Regions from separate parts of the Homo sapiens genome. Here region 1 is linked to region 2. The links come from fine-mapping of genetic effects on gene expression. A gene starts in region 2. The other region holds a variant in brackets. All regions are shown on one strand. Distances are between the middles of the regions.

Region 1 (10,066 bases), 130 kb after region 2:
AGGAGTTCTTTATATATTCTGGATAGTACCCCGTATCAGATATATGATTTGGAAATGTCTTCCCCTATTCTGCAGGTTGTCTTTTTACTTTCTGGAAAATTTTCTTTTTTTTTTTTTTTTGAGACAGAGTCTCACTCTGTTGCACAGTGGTGCGATCTTGGCTCATTGCAGCCTCTGACTCCTGGGTTCAAGCGATTCTCGTGCCTCAGCCACAGGAGCAGCTGAGATTACAGGCATGCGCCACCATGCCTGGCTAATTTTAGTATTTTTAATAGAGACGAGGTTTCACCATATTGGCCAGGCTGGTCTCAAACTCCTGACCTCAAGTGATCCAGCCACCTCGGCCTCCCAAAGTGTTGGAATTACAGGCAGGAGCCACTGCACCTGGCCACCAATTTTTTTCTTTGTGCTTTTGGTATTGTAGCAAAGAAACCCAAGGTCACAAGGGTTTTCTTCTGTATTTTCTTCTAGAAGTTTTGTAGTTTTAGGTTTTACATTTATGTCCATGAGCTTCTTGGATCTGTTATTTGATGTCTTTCATTAATTTTGGAAAATTTATGGCGTTTTATAATTTTTTACTTTTATTAATATAGAGATGGGGTCTCGCTATGTTGACCAGGCTGGTCTCAATGTCCTGGCCTCAAGCGACCCTCACATCTCAGCCTCCTACAGTGCTAGGATTACAGGCATGAGCCACTGCTCCTGGCCTGGCGTTTTAAATTTAAATATTTCTTCCATCCATCTGATCCTTTTCTTCTTCTGGGATTCTAATTACATATATTTTTTAAGACTGTTTTATATTGTCTCCTAACTTTAGGATGCTCTGTTCTGTTTCTGTGTTTTTTTCCCTCCCCTATTTTTTTCTTCTTTTTTTTCCTTAGAGACAGGGTCTCACTCTGTCACCTAAGCTGGAATGCAGGGGCACAATCATAGCTCTCTGTGGTCTCAAACTCTTGGGCCCCAATGATCCTATGGCCTTGGCCTCCCAAGTAGCCAGGACTACAGACATGCACCACCATGCCCGGCTAATTTTTAAAAATTGTTTTGTATAGATACAGGGTCTCACGATGTTGCCCAGGCTGGTCTCAAGCTCCCGGCCTGTAGCAATCCTCCTACCTCAGCCTCCTAAAGTGCTGGGATTACAGGCATAAGCCACTGCTCGTGGCCTAGGTTCACTGATTACTTCCCCAGCTATGCTGAGTCTTTTGATGAGCCTGTCAACATCATTCTCTTTTACTGTGACTTTCATTTCTAGCATTTTATTTATTCTTTCCTATAGTTTCCATCTCTTTAATGAAATTCCCCAACTGTGGGTACATGCTACTCACCTTTTCTCCCATTGCCTTTAACATATTAATCATAATTATTAAAATTCCCTAAAAGTTCCAACATCTGGGTCATATCTCAGTCTGATTTTGTTGATTGCTTTATCCCTTGACGGTGTGTTGCTTTTCTTGCTTCTTTGTGTGTCTCGTATTTTTTTGATTGAAAGCTGGGATCTTGTATAGGATAGTAGAGACTGAGGTAAATAGCATTTACACCTGAAAATGGGCTTACTTCTTCTATTTTTTTTTTAAGCAGTGTTTTGCTCTGTTGCCCAGGCTGAAGTGCAGTGGTACAATCACAGCTCACTGCAGCCTTGAACTCCTGAGCTCAAGTAATCTGCTGCCTCAGCCTCCTGAGTAGCTGGAACTACAGGCATATTCCACGTGCCTGGCTAATTTATTTATATTTTGTAGAGACAGGGTCTTGCTATGTTGCCCAGGCTGGTCTTGAACTCCTGGCCTCAGGTGGTCCTTCTACCTCAGCCTCCCAAAACACAGCTGCATGGCATAGAGATGGGGCCATCACATGGTGAAACCCCATCTCTGCTGAAAATACAAAAATTAGCTGGGCATGGTGGCGGGCGGCTGTAATCCCAGCTACTTGGGTGGCTGAGGCAGGAGAATCGCTTGAACCTGGGAGGCGGAGGTTGCAGTAAGCTGAGATTGCGCCACTGTACTCCAGCCTGGGCGACAGAGCAGGACTGTCAAAAAAAAAAAAAACACCAAAAAACAACAGGTGTGAGCCCCTGTGCCTGGTTAATGCTGCTGCTTTTGCCAGGCCCTTCAGGTAGGGAGCTGGTCAGTCTAGCCAGGAGTTAAGCTGGCTTTGGGGTTTGGTGTTGCTCTGTTGCCCTCAGGGCCCCACAGTTCTCTAGCATCACTTTGCTTAACTAACAACATCGAGCATCTCCTCATGTGCTTATTTACCATACATGTATCTTCTTTGATGTAATGTATTAGTCAAATCTTTTTTTTTTTTTTCTTTTTTGAGACAGGATCTTGACCTCTTGGTCTCAAGTGATCCTCCAGCCTCCCAAAGTGCTGGGATGGCAGGTGTGAGCCACCACACCCAGCCTATTCAAATCTTTTGCCCATTTTTCTTTCTCAGATTGCTTGACATTCCTCTAATATCACTAAGTGTTTAGAGTGGGGCCTGACTTGCTAGAAGGTTTTTTCCCAATGTCCGATCCACTCTCAGTTTTTTTTTTTTTTTTTCTTTTTGAGATGGAGTCTCGCTCTGTCACCCAGGCTGGAGTACAGTGGCGTGATCTCGGCTCACTGCAACCTCTGCCTCCTGGGTTCAAGCAATTCTCCTGCCTCAGCCTCCTGAGTAGCTGGGATTACAGGCACGTGCCACCACGTCTGGCTAATGTTTTGTATTTTTAGTGGAGACGGGGTTTCACCATGTTGGCTAGGCTGGTCTCGAACTCCTGATCTCGGCCTCCCAAAGTGCTGGAATTACAAGAGTGAGCCACCGCACCCAGCCTACCCTCAGTTTTAGGTCTTCTCTTTGCATTTGCTCCCAAGAGAGCATCTCTCCCTGCATTCTTGCCTTTCCCCCAGCAGTAGACCCACAACTGTAACTTGTTATTAGTGATTTTAAGCCTTTTTTATGTTTTTTTTTTTTTTTTTTTTTTTTGCGGGGATGTTGGCGAGCTGGAATGGCATTCTCCATTATTCTGGGTCAGCTCCAGTTTTAGGCAGGAGCTGGGTCTCAGAGCTCCTTCTCCTCCCCCAGTAGCAGATGAGATCTAATAGTCTGAGCCCAGGATGTATTTCTGCCCTTCCCCTAAAATTAAGAGGGTTTTTCTGTTTGATTCCCTCACCTGCAGTGGGTCTTCCTCTGTGCCTTGAGGGCTTTTCCCACCTTGACCCCACTGCTTAAGTCTTTTGTCCCATAAAGGAGAGAATGGAAATAGAGACAGTGAGTGGAGCTTCGTGCTTTCTTGCAGGGACTGCAGGAGGCTTTCTCAGACCTCTTGCCCTGCCCCAACCTTTCTTATGAGCACCTGGTGATGTACCTAGAGAAGAACCTGAGAGTGGGTAAAAATTCTCCTTGTGTCTGCAGCTCCTGGAGATTCTATACTTCACAGTAGCTCGCACTCCACATTTAGCAAGTTGTTAAAATTTTTAGCTGCTGTTTGAGTCCATTTTCTGCTGCTATAACAGAATGCCATAGACTGGGTAATTTATAAAGAACAGAAATTTATTGGCACATGGTTCTGGAGGCTGGGAAATCCAAGATCAAAGGACCAGCATCTGGCAAGGGCCTTCTGGCTGTGTCATCCCATGGCAGAAGTGCAGAGAGGGCAAGAGAGAGCAAAAGGAGCCAAACTTATCCTTTCTTCTTTTATTATTATTATTTTTTGAGACGGAGTCTCGCTCTGTCACCCAGGCTGGAATGCAGTGGCCCAATCTCGGCTCACTGCAAGCTCCACCTCCCGGGTTCACGCCACTCTCCTGCCTCAGCCTCCTGAGTAGCTGGGACTACAGGTGCCCGCCACCACGCCCAGCTAATTTTTTGTATTTTTAGTAGAGACGGGGTTTCATTGTGTTAGCCAGGATGGAAACTTACCCTTTTATAAGAAACCCACTCCAGGCCAGGCATGGTGGCTCATGCCTGTAATCCCAGCACTTTTGGAGGCCAAGGTGGGTGGATCACCTGAGGTCAAGAGTTTAAGAACAGCCTGGCCAACATGGTGAAACCCCGTCTCTACTAAACCTACAAAAATTAGCCAGGCATGGTGTTAGACACCTGTAATCCCAGCTACTTGGGAGGCTGAGGCAGGAGAATTGTTTGAACCTGGGAGGCAGAGGTTGCTGTGAGCCGAGATCACGCCACTGCACTCCAGCCTGGGTGACAGATAAAGACTCTGTCTCAAAAAAAAAAAAAAAAAAAAAAAAAGAAACCCACTCCAGCAATAATGAACCCGCGCCTGTGATGAGGCAATGGGAGGTGGAGGCCACCTCAGGAGGGGGCACTAAAGGGTCTCAGGGCACTGAAGGGTCTCCAGGCACAGGGACAACGTCTGGCTCTTCACTCAGAACTGGATCTGGGAGCTGAGCACAGTAGCTCATGCCTGTAATCCCAGCACTTTGGGAGGCTGAGGTGGGTGGATCACCTGAGGTCAGGAGTTCGATGCCAGCCTGGCCAACATGGTGAAACCCCATCTCTACTAAAAATACAAAAATTACCCGGGCGTGGTAGCATGCACCTGTAGTCCCAGCTACTTGGGAGGCTGAGAGAGGAGAACTGCTTGAGCCCGGGAGGCGGAGGTTGTGGTGAGCCGAGATCGCACCACTGCACTCCAGCCTGGGCGAGAGAGCAAGACTCCCTTTCAAAACAAACAAACAAACAAACAAACACAAAACAAAACAAAACAAAAAAACAAAAACCTTGATCTGGGAATTCAAAGCCCTGAGCTCATCTCTTTTTCTCATTAGTTTTCCAGTGCACTTAGAGGCAACCAAGTGACCCCACAGTCCCTGTGCCCTTTATTTCCACCCACACATTTGATGCCAGTAGTGACTTGGTCACCCGAGCCCTCTGTGGGCCTTGGGTCCAGGGGTTATGTAACTGCTCCACTACTGTGTGCCATGGAGCCCCAGTGTAGTCCCCGGCAGCAGGATCTGAACACCTCTAAATCCACTGAGATTGGAGAACTGATGCTGAGTTCCCATCCTTAAGATTCTCTTCTCCTGGAAGCATCACCAGTACCAACCACTGTATCACTCGGGGTTCAATCAGGGAAGCAAAGCCACTGCGGGTATTATGGGATGCAGATTCATTATGGGGATGG[C/G]CTGACACGATTATGGGAGGAGCTGGAGGTGAAGGCCCAGAGGGGACACGGGGGGTCAGAGCTGACACCTCCCAGCGATCTGAGAAGCCAGGTGTGTCTGGCTGCCAGAAGGGATGTGGGGGACGCTCCTGGAGGGTCCCCTGGGAGCTATTGCCTCTGTGTAGCTGCTGCCTCTGTGAGTTCTTTGGGGAGCCTCTGGGGTGGGCCTGGGGCCACTGCTGGTCAGCAGGCCAGCAGTCAGGAAGACCAAGCGCAGGGTGGAGAACGGCGAGGACAAGCTGGAGCCCCCCAGGCCACTGGGTCTGCCTGTCACCATGGCTGCCTCCTGTGACCTTCAGAGAGCAAAGGTCACTGCTTCCCTTCCAATTTCAAAAGCTCCTATGCAGGAAGCACAGAGGGAGGCCTTCTGGGAAACTCGCCTCTCAGCCTCACCAGGTTGGCTTGGCCCCATTGACGTCTCCCTCCCGCCAATCTGCAGGCTGGGTCAGGATCCTCCCAGGCCTTCGCCCCTCCCAGCACCTCCTCCCCAGCTGACTAAGATGCTGGGGTGGGTCTATTCTATTCAACATGGGTGTGACCAGCCATTAGCACAAGCTTGGAACAGAGCAGCGCTCAATGTGTGTTTGGCAAATGGACGGGTGAATGGAGGACGGGATGATGCCTGCTTGGTGCCAGGCCCTGGGCTGGGCGCAACGAACACAGAAAAGTCAGGGAGGAGGTTTGCTGCTGCCAGAGTTGTGGCCTGTACTTATTCTCTGCAGGGCATTTGGCTAAAGGCTGGGGCCGCGGGAGGAAGGTGGAGATAAGCCGAGCCCCCAACAGCTGGGACATGCCTGGATGAATGTGTTCAGGGCCTCAGACAAACCCAGTGAGAGACCAGGCTGGAAGCGCAGGGCAGGTGAGGCCACTACTGGCCAGTGACTTGCGGAGGACTTCCTGCAGCAGGTGGCATGGGGAGGCTGGAACAGGTGGACCCCTGTGGTGGGGCAGGTGCATGCCAGACAGAGGGTGCTTCAATATATGTGTCCCTGCAAAATTTAGATGTTGGGGCTGGGCACAGTGGCTCACATCTGTAATCCTAGCACTTTGGGAGGCGGAGGTGGGTGGATCACCTGAGGTCAGGACTTTGAGACCAGCCTGGCCAACATGGTGAAACCACGTGTCTACTAAAAATACAAAAATTAGCCAAGTAGTAGTGGCATGCTACTACCAGAACAGAATGTGTAACCAAGAGATATAAGCAGAAACCTAGGTCCCAAGTCCACTCTGCTCCAGGCTCAGCCCCTCTGGTCCATTCTCCACAGGCGGCAGGGCCTGCCTGTAAATCCTCCATGGTCCCCCGTGGCCCTCGGGAGGTGGTCCAGCCTCCTCCACGTGACTGCCCCTCTCTCACCTCCTAGCCTTCCACGTGCTGCCCCTCTGTCCTCCCACCCTACCTGCTCCTCCTCAGAGCAGCCTTTCTTGACTCTCTGCCTTGGTCAGGGCCCCCCTGTGCTCCCCAACTTGCCACTCATGGCCCAGTGTCCTGGGACGGTCCCTGTGGCCTGGCTGGACTCTAGGTGGGGGTCTTACACTGTGCGTGCTGGGGGTCTGGAGAGGAGAGGAAAGTGCAGCCACGCAGAGCTGAGAAGGGAAAGGTTGGGGGTGCCTCTCAGGGCCAAACTCTCCTTCCAGATCATTCCTTTTTTCTCTTTTCTTTTTTTTGAGACAGAGTCTTGCTCTGTCACCCAGGCTGGAGTGCAGTGGCGCGATCTCAGCTCACTGCAACCTCTGCCTCCTGGGTTCAAGGGATTCTCCGGCCCCAGCCTTCCGAGTAGCTGGGATTACAGGCACGCGCCATCATGCTCAGCTAATTTTTTGTGTGTGTTTAGTAGAGCGGGGGTTTCGCCATGCTGGCCGTGCTGGTCTTGAACTCCTGACCTCAAGTGATCAGCCTGCCTCGGCCTCCCAAAGTGCTGGGATTACAGGCGTGAGCCACCGTGCCCAGCCCAGATCATTATTGATTTAGGGATTTCCTTGGCTCTGCCTGGGAACAGTTTTCGTGTGACAAACCCAGTTTAGAAATGGCCAGTGAGAATGGTGGCCATCAGCAGGTCCCCATCTTGTACCCATGGCAGGAGAGGAAAGAGAAGTCTCCATGCCCTGCCTTCCTAGATCCTGCTAGCGGGCCTGAGGCTGCACGTGTGGCCTTTCTTTCTTTCATTTTTTTTTTAGATGGGGTCTCCTACTGTTGCTCAAGCTGGAGTGCAGTGGCATGATCACAGGTCACTGTAGCCTCCACCTCCCAGGCTCAAGCAATCCTCCCACCCAAGTAGCTGGGACTACAGGTGCATGCCACCATGCGTGGCTAATATTTAAATTGTATTTTATTTTTCATCAAGTCAGTGCATTTTATTTTATTTTTTAAATTGTTCCTTTTCATTTTTTAATTTTTAATTTTTGGGGGTGTAGTGTAGGTGTATATATTAAATATTTCTGGGGCACACGAGATATTTTAACAGATGCATGCAATGAGTACTAATCACAGCAGGGTAAATGGGGTATCCATCCCCTCAGGCATTTATCCTTTGTGTTACAAACAATCCAATTATACTCCTTTAGTTATTTTAAAATGTCACTTAGGGTAGACGTGGTGGCTCATGCCTGTAATCCCAGCACTTTGGGAGGCCGAGGCAGGCAGATTACCTGAGGTCAGGAGCTCAAAACCAGCCTGGCCAACATGGTGAAACCCCAACTCTACTAAAAATACAAAAATTAGTCAGGCATGGGGTGCGCGCACCTGTAGTCCCAGCTACTTGGGAGGCTAAGGTGGGAGAATTTCTTGAACCCGGGTGGCAGAGGTTGCAGTGAGCCGAGATCAAGCCATTGCACTCCAGCCTGGAAGACAGAGCAAGACTCCGTCTCAAAAAGATAATAAATCGGCCAGGCGCTGTGGCTTATGCCTATAATCCCAGCACTTTGGAAGGCGGAGGTGGACGAGTCACCTGAGACCAGGAGTTCAAGACCAGCCTGGCCAACATGATGAAACCTAGTCTCTACTAAGCAAACAAACAAACAAACAAACAAAAATTAGCTGGGTGTGGTGGCACATGCCTGTATTCCCAGCTACTAGGGAGGCTGAGACAGGAGAATTACTTGAACCCGGAAGATGGAGGTTACAGTGAGCTGAGATCATGCCACTGTACTTCAGCCTCAGCGACACAGAGAGACTCTGTTTCAAAAAAAAAAAAAAATAGGCTGGGCGCAGTGGCTCACACCTGTAATCCCAGCACTTTGGGAGGCCAAGGCGGGTAGATCACCTGAGGTCGGGAGTTCGAGACCAGCCTGACCAACATGGAGAAACCCTGTCTCTACTAAAAATACAAAATTAGCCAGGCGTGGTTGGACATGCCTGTAATCCCAGCTACTGGGGAGGCTGACGCAGGAGAATTGCTTGAACCTGGGAGGCGGAGGTTGCAGTGAGCCAAGATCATGCCATTGCATTCCAGCCTGGTAAAAAAAGTGAAACTCCATCTAAAAAGAGAAAAAGATTACCCTCCCTCCAGCCTGGGTGATAGAGCAAGACTCCATCTCAAAAAAAAAAAAAAAAAAAAATTACCCTCCCTTTTGACCCAGCAATTCCACAACTAGAAATTTACCCCTAGAAATAATTTGGCAAATGCAAAAAAAAAAAAAAAATGTGCACAAGGATGTTCATATAGTGGTGAGGTTGGTGGTGTTTATGAGGGCAAACAATTGGAAGTTGCCAAGATGACCAACAATGGGATTAGAAGAGTAAAGGGTACACAGTCAGGGCTCTGGACATTCTTGAGTAAATGACTGAAATTGTGCTTCCACTTATTTTATTCTCATACATGTCATCCTCATGACCTTAGATGTGAGCCCTGTTATTATCTCCACTTTCCAGATGAAGGAACAAAGGCTCAGAGAAGGGCACAGACTACTGGTGGCAGGGCCAGAACTCATCCTCAGCTGGATCTGATACCAGGACCCGATAAACAAAGGAAGCCAGGAGTCTGAGTACGAATAAAGGAAATCAGGGAGAAGCCTCCAGCGAGTCATTCCTTTGCTTATTGCCTTTATGAAGCTCTCACCCCCAGGCATGCTCTGTGCTCACAATGGCAGCCATTGCTGCGAATCCTTTTTTTTTTTTTTTTTTTTTGAGAGAGTCTTACTCTGTCCCCCAGGCTGGAGTGCAGTGGTGCAATCTCAGCTCACCGCAACCTCCGCCTCCCAGGTTCAAGTGATTCTCCTGCCTCAGCCTCCCAAGTAGCTGGGATTACAGGCGCCCACAACCATGCTTGGCTAATTTTTGTATTCTTAGTAGAGATGGGGTTTCGCCATGTTGGCCAGGCTGGTCTCGAACCCCTGACCTCAGGTGATTCACTTGCCTCGGCCTCCCAAAGTGCTGGGATTACAGGCGTGAGTCACCGTGCCTGGCCCTCGAATACTCTTACTTTTCCTGAAAGGGAAGAGGGCAGCTGTCCCAGGCCCCAGGCCTCACTCTCATAAGCAGTAGGATATGGTGGTCATGAAGGCAGACTCTGGCGCCATGGTGCCTGGGCTCAAATCCCAGCTCTACCACTTACTAGTGGTGGATCTTGGACAAGTGACTTAACCTCTCTTGGCCTCAGTTTCCCCATTTGTAAAATGGGGATAATAACAATAATACCTACCTCATAGGGTTGTTGTGAAGGTTAAATAAATATTTGTAAAGAACATAGAGCCGTGCCCAGAACATAGTATGCCCTGTATCAGTATTTGTTTTTTAAAAAAAATACACACACACAGTGCACATGCATATATAATCATTATGAAAATATTTGAGAGGCAGGCAGAGTGGCTCATGCCTGTAATCCCACCACTTTGGGAGGCTGAGGTGGGTGGATCGCCTGAGGTCAGGAGTCCGAGACCAGCCTGATCAACATGGAGAAACCCCGT
Region 2 (10,066 bases):
GGATCTTTGAAGAGTCTCCAGGCAAGTGAGGGGCCCTAAATCATAAGCTCCATCAGCTTCATGGATCTCAGTATTATTATTTCTGAGCCTGCCAGTGGGGGCCAGTGTAGGACCACCAATGACCCAGAACATGGACTGTGGCTATGACGGGAACAAATTAATTGCTCCAAAGTGAAAAGTATTTTTTTAAGGAATACTTTCTACCACCTGGGTCTTACTGGATTTTTTTGCTTGCAGGATTCCTAGAGCTCTAACCTGGGAAACACAGCAAAACCTCATCTCTACAAAAAATAAAAAAGTTAGCCAGGCATGGTGGTGCGTGCATATGATCCCAGGTACTCAGGAGGCTGAGGCAGGAGGATTGCTTGAGCCCTGCCCAGAAAGTAGAGGTTGCAGTGGGCTGTGATTACATCACTGCACTCTAGCCTGGGTGACAGAGAGAGACCCTGTCTCAGAATTAAAAAAAAAAAAAAAAAGCTGGGTGTGGTGGTTCCTGCCTGTAATCCCAGCACTTTAGGAGGACGAGGCAGGAAGATTACTTGAGTCCAGGAGTTTGAGACCAGCCTGGGCAACACAGTGAGATCTTGTCTGTATAAAAAATAAAAAAATTAGCCAGGCACAGTGAAGGGACTTCGCATGTGTGAAGTTCCAGGTACTCTGGAGGCTGAAGTGGGAGGATGGCTTGAGCCAGGGAGGTTGAGGCTGCAGTAAGCAGTGATGGTGTCACTGAGCTTTAGCCTGGGTGAAAGAGCGAGATCCTGTCTCAAAAAGTAAATAAACGATGAAAACTATTTTAGAGTTTTTTAATGGTAAAATTATGATTTCTATTCATGTTATTGCTGTATTTACTTACTGCCTAGTTTATAATTTGCTTGACTCTTCCAGATGTGGCCCTAATCTTTCCACAGTCAAGCGTGTACTACTATTTCACAGCATTTTCCTTTCCAAACTGTGTGCCAAATAAATCGGGGTCTCCAACCCCAGAGCCGTGAACTGGTACCCGTCTGTGGCTTGTTAGGAATGGAGCAGCACAGGATGAAGTGAGTGGTGGGTAAGTGAGCATTACCACCTGAGCTCTGCCTCCTGTCAGATCAGCAATGGCATTAGATTATCATAGGAGTGCGAACCCTATTGTGAACTGCGTATGCAAGGGGTCTAGGTTGTCCACTCCTTATGGGAATCTAATGCCTAATTATCTGAGGTGTAACAATTTCATCCCGAAACCATCCCCCCGACCTCCTCCACCCCCTACCACCATTTCCTGGAAAAACTGTCTTCCACAAAACCAGTCCCTGGTGCCAAAAAGGTTAGGGACTGCTGAAATAAAATCATGTCATAGGTGAAGTCCTTGTTTCTTCCCTTTTGTCTTCCTCTTTCTCTGTAATCTTTATTTCTTATGGCCTGTTTTTCTTTCTGGTATGGTTTGGTCTCACTTAACTCTCATATTTCTTTCTTAAGTGTAGATGTATTGTAACTTAAACAATGTTACTTTTTGGTCTTGATGGATGGCTCACACCTGTAATTCCAGCACTTTGGGAGGCTGAGGTGGGCAGATCACCTGAGGTTGGGAGTTCGAGACCAGCCTGACCAACATGGAGAAACCCCGTCTCTACTAAAAATACAAAATTTGCTGGCGCAGTAGCTCACACCTGTAATCCCAGCACTTTGGGAGGCCGAGGCGGGCAGATCACGAGGTCAGGAGTTCAAGACCAGCCTGGCCAACATAGTGAAACCCTGTCTGAACTAAAAATACAAAAATTAGCCAGGGATGGTGGCGTGCGCTTGTAGTCTCAGCTACTCTGGAGGTTGAGGCAGGAGAATCACTTGAACCTGGGAGGCGGAGGTTATGGTGAGCTGATATCGCGCCATGGCACTCCAGCCTGGGCAACAAGAGCGAAACTCCATAAAAAAAAAAAAAAAAATTAGCCGGGCATGGTGGCCCGAACTGTAATCCCAGCTGTTCGGGAGGCTGAGGCATGAGAATTGCTTGAACCTGGGAGGCGGAGGTTGTGGTAAGCCGAGATCGTGCCATTGTACTCCAGCCTGGGCAATAAGAGCGAAACTCTGTCTCAAAAAAGAAAAAGAAAAAGAAAAATTAGCCAGGCATGGTGGCGTGCACCTGTAATCCCAGCTGAGGATTAGGCATGAGAACTGCTTGATCCCAGGAGGTGGAGGTTGCAGTGAGTTGAGATCATTCCACTGCACTCCAGCCTGGGCAACAGAGTGAGACTCCATCTCAAACAAAACAAAACAAAACAAAACAAAAAACAAACAGGCGAGCCCAGCACAGCGGTGCAAGCCTGTGGTCCCAGGTACTCAGGAAGCTGAGGCATGAGGATCCCTTGAGCCCTCACGATAGCACCTGTGAATAGTTACTGCATTCTAGCCTGGGCAACATAGCAAGACCTATTTCTAAAATAAAAATGTAGACAAATTATTACATTCTAGGCAGTACGCCCAGTGGTGAATAAGATGGAGTCTGCGCCCTCAGGGACTATGTGTTGGTTTAAATTTTCACCTCAAGTTAACATTTGTGATTCAATATAAGTGATGAAGTTTGGGGGCCTTTGAGGGACCTGGGGATAAAGTGTTTTTTTGTCCAGAAATACTTGCCAGAGGCCCCTTAAATCACTTGGCCATAGCATCTGCTTTCTTGGCTTACTTCTAAGACTGGCTGTGTACACATAGAAGGAAAAAGAACATTAAAAAAAATGTTTTGCGATTCTAAGGCAGAGTAGTTTAATAGAGTATGGAGTTGGGAGGCTGAAGAACTAAACTCTACACAAGGTCCAGTATGAATTTTGTGACCATGAACAAGTAACTTCATATCCTTCTATGTCAGGGAAGACTGAGTTGTGTATGGAAAGAAAGGGGCTTTGGACAGAGTTTACTGTGTATTCATCCATTCATTTAAAAAACAAAAAACAAACATTACATTCTAGGCAGTATGCCAGGTTCTAGGGAGACAGTGATCTGCCCTCAGTGAGTACTACTTATTGATTTTGAGCAAATTTTCACCTCTTGAGTTTACTTTCCCATTTGTAAAAGGGATGAAAATAATACCTATTCCATATTTCCCAAGAATCACTGTTGTAGTGATCCATAGTTCTAGCAGGAGATTTGAATTCCTTGAGTGTGCTGACTGGAAAAAAAAAAGAAAATTGCTTGTTAGTTCAAGTTCTTCATTTGTAGGTGACAGAACAGGGCTCAGAAGATTAACTGACCATTCTAGTTCCTTTTTTACTTCTCACATGCAATGCAGCTTCCCTGAAGATTCTTTTGCAACTTTTGGGGCCTCTCCTTCCCTTCCTCCCTGGCCTGGGTGCTCCAGCCTACCCAGACGCAGTGTTCCAGAGCCCACTGTGAATGTGGTTTTGCTAAGGCTGAGTTCTTCCTTAGCAGTCCACGAATGCCATCTCTTGTCTTGAAATCCAGCCATCCAGTAACTCCTAACTGTCACCTCTTCCATAAGGTCATGAACCCTCAACTTGAAAAGGCCATTCTCTCTGAGAATCTCAGAATGCTTTGTACCTTGGCTTATTATGATGATCCTTAATCTGTGGCAGTTTCATCCTACCCTAGATTGTAAATTGTATCCTCTTGCTTATTTCTTTTCTTTTTTTTTTTTTCTTGAGACAGAGTCTCGCTCTGTCGCCCAGGCTGGAGTGCAGTGGCACGATCTCCACTCACTGCAAGCTCCGTCTCCCGGGTTCACGCCATTCTCCTGCCTCAGCCTCCCGTGTAGCTGGGACTACAGGCGCCTGCCACCATGCCCGGCTAATTTTTTGTATTTTTAGTAGAGACAGGTTTCTACCGTGTTAGCCAGGATGGTCTCGATCTCCTGACCTCATGATCCGCCCACCTCGGCCTCCCAAAGTGCTGGGATTACAGGCGTGAGCCACTGCGCCCGGCCTCCTCTTGCTTATTTCATGCCAGCGGTGCATTGAGTAATGTCTTGTAACAGAGCTGATTGAATTCCTGAATGAGTTGAATGGCAGCACGATAGCAATAACATCTGACCAGCCTACCATAGGTGGTTCTATTACTACCTATGTAGTCATAAAACAAGGCAATAAATATGAAGCAATTCTGTCAATGTTGTTGTTGCTGTTTTGTTTTGAGACAGGTTTCACTCTGCTGCCCAGGATGGAGTTCAGTGGCATGATCACAGCTCACTGCAGCCTTGACCTTTTTGGGCTTGGTGATCCTCCCACTTCAGCCTCCCTAGTAGCTGGGACTACAGGTGCAAGCCACCATGCCTCGCTGATTTTTGTATTTTTTGTAGAGTTGGGGTTTCACTATGTTGCTCAGGCTGGTCTTGAACTTCTGGGCTCAAGCAATCCTCCTGCCTTGGCCTCGCAAAGTGCTAGGATTATAGGCATATGCCACCATGCCCCTAAAGGTGACATCAAGAGAGGTGAGTAGATAGAAAGCAGTTTGGGAGTTGATTGACATTTGAAATAGCTGGGGAAATGATTATTACTTTTTTCCTTTTTTTGCCTGGAGACTCCCAGTATTGGAGGATATAATCATTGTTCTCAATTTTTTGAAGATCTGTCAAGTGGAAGACATTCTGTATTGCTCCAGGCAGCCTAACTACCAGCAATGGAAGGAAATAAAGGGAAACAGATTTCAGCTCAGCAGGAGGCAGAACTTTCTAACATTTAGAGCTGTCCAACAGTGGAGCAGGCTGCATTACTTGAGGGAGTGAGCTCCCTGAAATTTGAACTGTTGAACAGGAAGATGACCATCTGGCTGAATGTACAGGAGGGAATTCCTGCCTGGGCAACAGTTGCACTAGTGACCTTTAAGCAGGTATCTTCCAATTTTAAGGTTTCTAGACTGTTCAACTCAGCTAACTTGACCTCTGAATATATGAGTTATGGTGTTACAAAAATTATTAGACAGTTCATTTATTGACTTACCTAAAATAACTGCATGGTGAAGTTTATGATAAGCAAGATTTTAGAAACTGAGAAGTGGGAAGGCAGGTTTTACACTGAAAATCCAGATACCATCCAAACCAATTAATGGCACTTAGAACAAAAGGGAAGGGAGGGGCCGGCAGCGGTGGCTCACGCCTGTAATCCCAGCACTTTGGGAGGCCGAGGCGGGCGGATCACGAGGTCAGGAGATCGAGACCATCCTGGCTAACACGGTGAAACCTCGTCTCTACTAAAAATCAAAAAATTAGCCGGGCGTGGTGGCGGGCGCTTGTAGTTCCAGCTACTTGGGAGGCTGAGGCGGGAGAATGGCGTGAACCCGGGAGGCGGAGCTTGCAGTGAGCCGAGATTGAGCCACTGCACTCCAGCCTGGGCGACAGAGCCAGACTCCGTCTCGAAAAAAAAAAAAAAAGGGAAGGGAGGTTTGTAAGTAGTGTGTGCGTACGTGTGAGAGAGAAACAGAGAAGAGAGAGAGTCATTCATGCGAATAATGTGTCCTGGGCAACTGAGCGTTGTCACAGAAAGCATAAAACGCTCTACATTTTTGCTTTACACATACTTGCTCAGTCGGATTCTTCACGTCCAGCATTACTGCAGGCGGAAACCAGGGCCCAGGCCTGGTGAACAGCCTTCCGGAAGACGATTCCGGACCCGGACACCCACGACAGCCTCAGGGGGCAGCTGACCTAGGGCTGCCTAAGGCGGAAGTGGGAGCCCCTAGCCGCCCGGGCGGAACTACAGCTCCCAGAGGCCCCCGCGGCGCTGCGCACGCGCGCTGGCGTGGCGGCAGCGCCGCTGCAGGACGCAGGGAAGCCAACAGGCGAGTGGCGAAGGTGGCGGCAGCGGCGGCGGGGGCAGTCACCGGCTAGGGCGACGGCTCCGAGGCCGAGTGGCGGTCCGACAGAGTCCTCCGTGTCCTCCCCCGCATGACCCCCTTGGTGAGTACGCGTCCCGATTTAGTCCGCGGGCTGTGAGCGGCTCCCTGCCTCGCGGCCGGGTTGCTCCGGCCTAGGGCCGCAGCCTGTCTCTGACTGCCCGGCCGTCAGGTCCAACTGACCCCGGGGTCCTGGGCTCTTCCCGTCAGTGTCGGGCGAGGTGGGGGTCGGGGGACACTGGGTTAGACCCAGGGGAGAGATGTGGCGGCGCGCAGGAGCCAGGGCGGCCTGGGGCTGAGGAGAGGGAGAGACGCGTGGGGGATGGGATGGGAAGGGACAGGAGGACCGCGGGGCGGCCTCGGGTGGGGGCCAGAGACGAGAGGCCCGGCAGGTAGGGAACTGAGTATAGGAGGCGAGAACGAAATGGAATGTCTTCTGAGTGTCGCTGATAAAGATATCGTGCTGCAGGGAAGCTTGACAAGCTGGACACACGGGTCTGGGGGCAGCCCACCTAACACAGACACTCACTGTACTTGGCATCTTTCCACTTGCTGTCGGAGGTCTGAAAGTGAGGGAGCTGTTGGTTGTTTCCATCCCTTTTCTTTTAACTTCACCTTTTATTGACTGGCAAAATTGTAGTGAGTGCTGGCTAGGCAAACCACAGAAGTACACCCAGGGTTCTGTGTATAAATGTGCATAAAAACAGGGAGACATAGTGATAGGTTCAGATGAGAACTAGGTCAAAGGAGGAATCAGTGTTTTTATTTTTAAATTTATGACGAAAATCAGTTCTGAGCAGGACTTTGAACTAGAGAGGGGTTTTAAACTGGAGTTCATTGATGGATAGAATTAGAAGGGTCCTTTCACTAGAAGGAGGATAAAATGACATCATTATTTTTATTGACTGCTAACTGAAACTTATTATTTCCTTCAGTTACGAATGTGGACAACAAGCCAGAGTAGCATTAGCAGCGCCTATGACTTTGTGATCAATAAAAATTACGGATATTTTTGCATCATGTTTACAGTTGCAGATAGCTCAGAATATCATTTATGGTTAACACTTCTTTGAATTTCTGGTGTTACTAGACCCGCCGTTAGACATTGTTATTTAATGTGATAATAAGGCTGTACATATATTATGACCATATTAGTTTGTTGTTTTGCTAATATTTCCATATAATTGGTTTCCCTTGTAATCACATGTATTTAATTATGCACTTAAAAGAAATCTGAGAAAGGGACCATAGGCTTCACCAAACTGCCAATGAGGTCCGTGCACAAAAAGATTAAGAACTCCTGAAATAATTTGGGAGGCCGAGGCGGGCGGATCATTGAGGTCAAGAGATCGAGACCATCCTGGCCAACATGGTGAAACCCCATCTCTACTAAAAATACAAAAATTAGTTGGGTGTGGTGGCCCATGCCTGTAATCCCAGCTACTTGGGAGGCTGAGGCAAGAGAATCACTTGAGCCCGGGAGGTGGATATTGCAGTGAGCCAAGATCACGCCACTGCACTCCAGCCTGGCAACAGAGCGAGACTCCGTCTCAAAAAACAAAACAAAACAAAAAAACTCCTGAAATAGAAATAAGGTTTTTTGGATTTATAAGTCTACTTAGAAGAACTGTTGTTTTTTTTTTTTTGGTTGTAAGTTTATTCAATGCAAAAGAATCCTCTCCAATTTTACTGAGGTGGCTGACCACGTCCACGACCAAATCCGTCTCAACTGGAATTTGGCTGCTGACCCAGCCCCAGCCTCAGCTTTCTTGTCGGCACTAAGTGGCACAGCACTCCATCTGTAGGTATGTCTGTCAGCACTCCATCTGTAGGTATGTCTGTCAGCTTCCCCTCTTGTGAGTCTCGCAGGTCACTCACCCTCCAGACCTTTAGGCTGAGGCCTGCCGGTCTCTGGACAGCTATGGCGTAGGGTAGCAGGTACAGTCTCCGGGGGGCAGATGAAGGTAATCCCGGAGATACTGGATACCCTCATTGGTAAGGTACCAGTAGAAATGTCTCCAGGCAAACTGTTCCTTCATGTAGCCTTGAGACTTGAGAGACTGCATGGCCTTCATGACATGAAGGTTGGGCACGTTCTTGTCTGCCAGCTCTGGGTGCTTAGGCATGTGGACATCCTTCTTGGCCACCATGACTCCCTCCTTAAAAAGGAGTTCATAAATGGCAATCTGGTTCTTTAGAAGAACATTTGAATCATTGAAGGCAGACAGGATGACAGTGTAGACGAAAGAGAATTTCATAATCAGGGAGATAAAAAATTTGGATGGGATCAGGGTAGTCTTTTGTTTTGTTTTGTTTTGAGACGGAGTCTGGCTCTGTTGCCTAGGCTGGAGTGCAGTGGCATGATCTCCGCTCACTGCGACCTCAGCTTCCTGGGTTCAAGCGATTCTTGTGCCTCAGCTTCCTGAGTAGCTGGGACTACAGACACCAGCCACCACGCCTGGATAATTTTTATATTTTTAGTAGAGGCAAGGTTTCACCATGTTGGTCAGGCTGGTCTCAAAGTCCTGACCTCAGGTGATCTGCCTGCCTCGGACTCCCAAAGTGCTGGGATTACTGATGTGAGCCACCGCGTCCTGCCCAGAGTAGTCATTTTGAAAGAATAGACCATAGATATTTCATTCAGGGTAATGGGGAATGAACAAAATAATCGGAAGAAGAAAGAAAAGTGAATATGTTGGCCTTTAAATTTTTGTATTAAGGCACCTCCCCACTTCCAAGGGATTGCAGCTCTGTAAGCTCTAATGTAAGCCTGAGAAAAGAAATTTTACTGTTTGCTGGTTTTCTTTAAATCATGGAGGTGGATTTTTTTTTTTTTTTTCTGAGATGGAGTCTCAGGCTGTCGCCCAGGCTGGAGTGCAGTGGCGCGATCTCAGCTCACTGCAAGCTCTGCCTACCGGGTTCATGCCATTCTCCTGCCTCAGCCTCCCAGGTAGCTGGGACTACAGGTGCTGCCACCATGCCTGGCTAATTTTTGTATTTTTAGTAGAAACGGGGTTTCACCATGTTGGTCAGGCTGGCCTCGAACCTCCTGACCTTAAGTGATCTGCCCGCCTTGGCCCCCCAGAGTGCTAGGATTATTGGCGTGAGCCACCGCGCCTGGCCATCTTACATTTTTTAAAAGACAAAAAATTATTTCCCAGCACTATGTTGTGCTTTTGTGAGCATTTGGTTTCATATGGGGACTAATCATTCTTAGTACATGCTGCCATATAGGTTTGATTATTCATCATTTTGTATGAGGTAATAAAAGGGAAAGTCTGTAAGTGAAGTTCTTGTTTTGCTGAGGTTCTTTTACCTTTTACTGTGTGATCCTAGGTTGTTTTATTTCTCTTCATTCTTCTTCCTTCTTTCTTCTTCCTTCTTTTTTTTTGAAACAAGGTCTTGCTGCATTGCCCAGGCTGGACTTGAACTCCTGGACTTGAGTGATCCTCCTGCCTCAGCCTTACCAAGTAGCTAGGACTATAGGTCGGCACCACCACACCTGGCATTGTTTCTTTTTCTGTTCTTCTTTCTGAGAGGGAGTCTTACTTGTCTCCCAGGCTGGAGTGCAGTGGTGTAATCTTGGCTCACTGAAACCTCTGCCTCCCGGGTTCCAGCGATTCTCCTGCCTCAGTCTCCCTCCTGGGCTGGGACTACAGGCGGGTGCCACGATGGCTGGCTAATTTTTGTATTTTTTTGTAGAGACGGGGTTTCACCATATTGGCCAGGCTGGTCTTGAACTCCTGACCTCGTGATCTGCCCACCTCGGCCTCCCATAGTGCTGGGATTACAAGTGTGAGCCACCGCGCCCGGCCAAAAAAAAAATTTCATGTCTGACGATATCAAATGTTGGTGAAGATGTGGCAAAAATGGTAATTTTGAAACTACTGGCCAGGCGTGGTAGCTCATGCCTATAATTTTAGCACTTTTGGAGTTTGAGGGCCACTTGAGTCCTTGAACCCGGGAGTTCAAGACCAGCCTGGGCCTCAAAGTGAGACCCCTGTCTCTATTAAAAAAGAAAAAATTTATAAAAAAAAAAAAAAAAAGAAACTGCTACCGGTTACTGTTAGGAGGAGGAAAAAAAAACTGTTGGTTGAGTGTAAACTGGTATAGCTGCTTTTGAAGACAGTATTTGCAGCCCTTAGTAAAGTTGAAGATAGGCGTACTCTATAATTTCACGTCTATAAGGGATTATGAATGGGAGGTAGTGGCAAAGGGGATGATATCTATAATTTTTTTTTTTTTTTTG

What was found. PIP is the estimated chance that this variant, and not a neighbour inherited with it, causes the effect.
Region 1: its variant is fine-mapped to the expression of GAPVD1 in subcutaneous fat (GTEx, PIP 0.94).

Annotation. Positions count from the first base shown.
Region 1 is chr9:125,382,730-125,392,795 of GRCh38, forward strand. No RefSeq gene overlaps it. Among named protein-coding and RNA genes, the nearest start is that of GAPVD1, 130 kb to the left of the region's middle. RefSeq lists an enhancer at 7,285-8,024. The variant C/G (reference allele first, on the strand shown) is at 5,126.
Region 2 is chr9:125,256,079-125,266,144 of GRCh38, forward strand. It overlaps GAPVD1 (GTPase activating protein and VPS9 domains 1), which reads left to right and starts at 5,748. Exons shown (of 28, transcript NM_001282680.3): 1 at 5,748-5,881. HSPA5-DT (HSPA5 divergent transcript) reads left to right here. Exons shown (of 3, transcript NR_186826.1): 3 at 886-993. It also overlaps the pseudogene RPS10P17. RefSeq lists silencers at 2,063-2,321, 5,645-5,826, 5,765-5,894.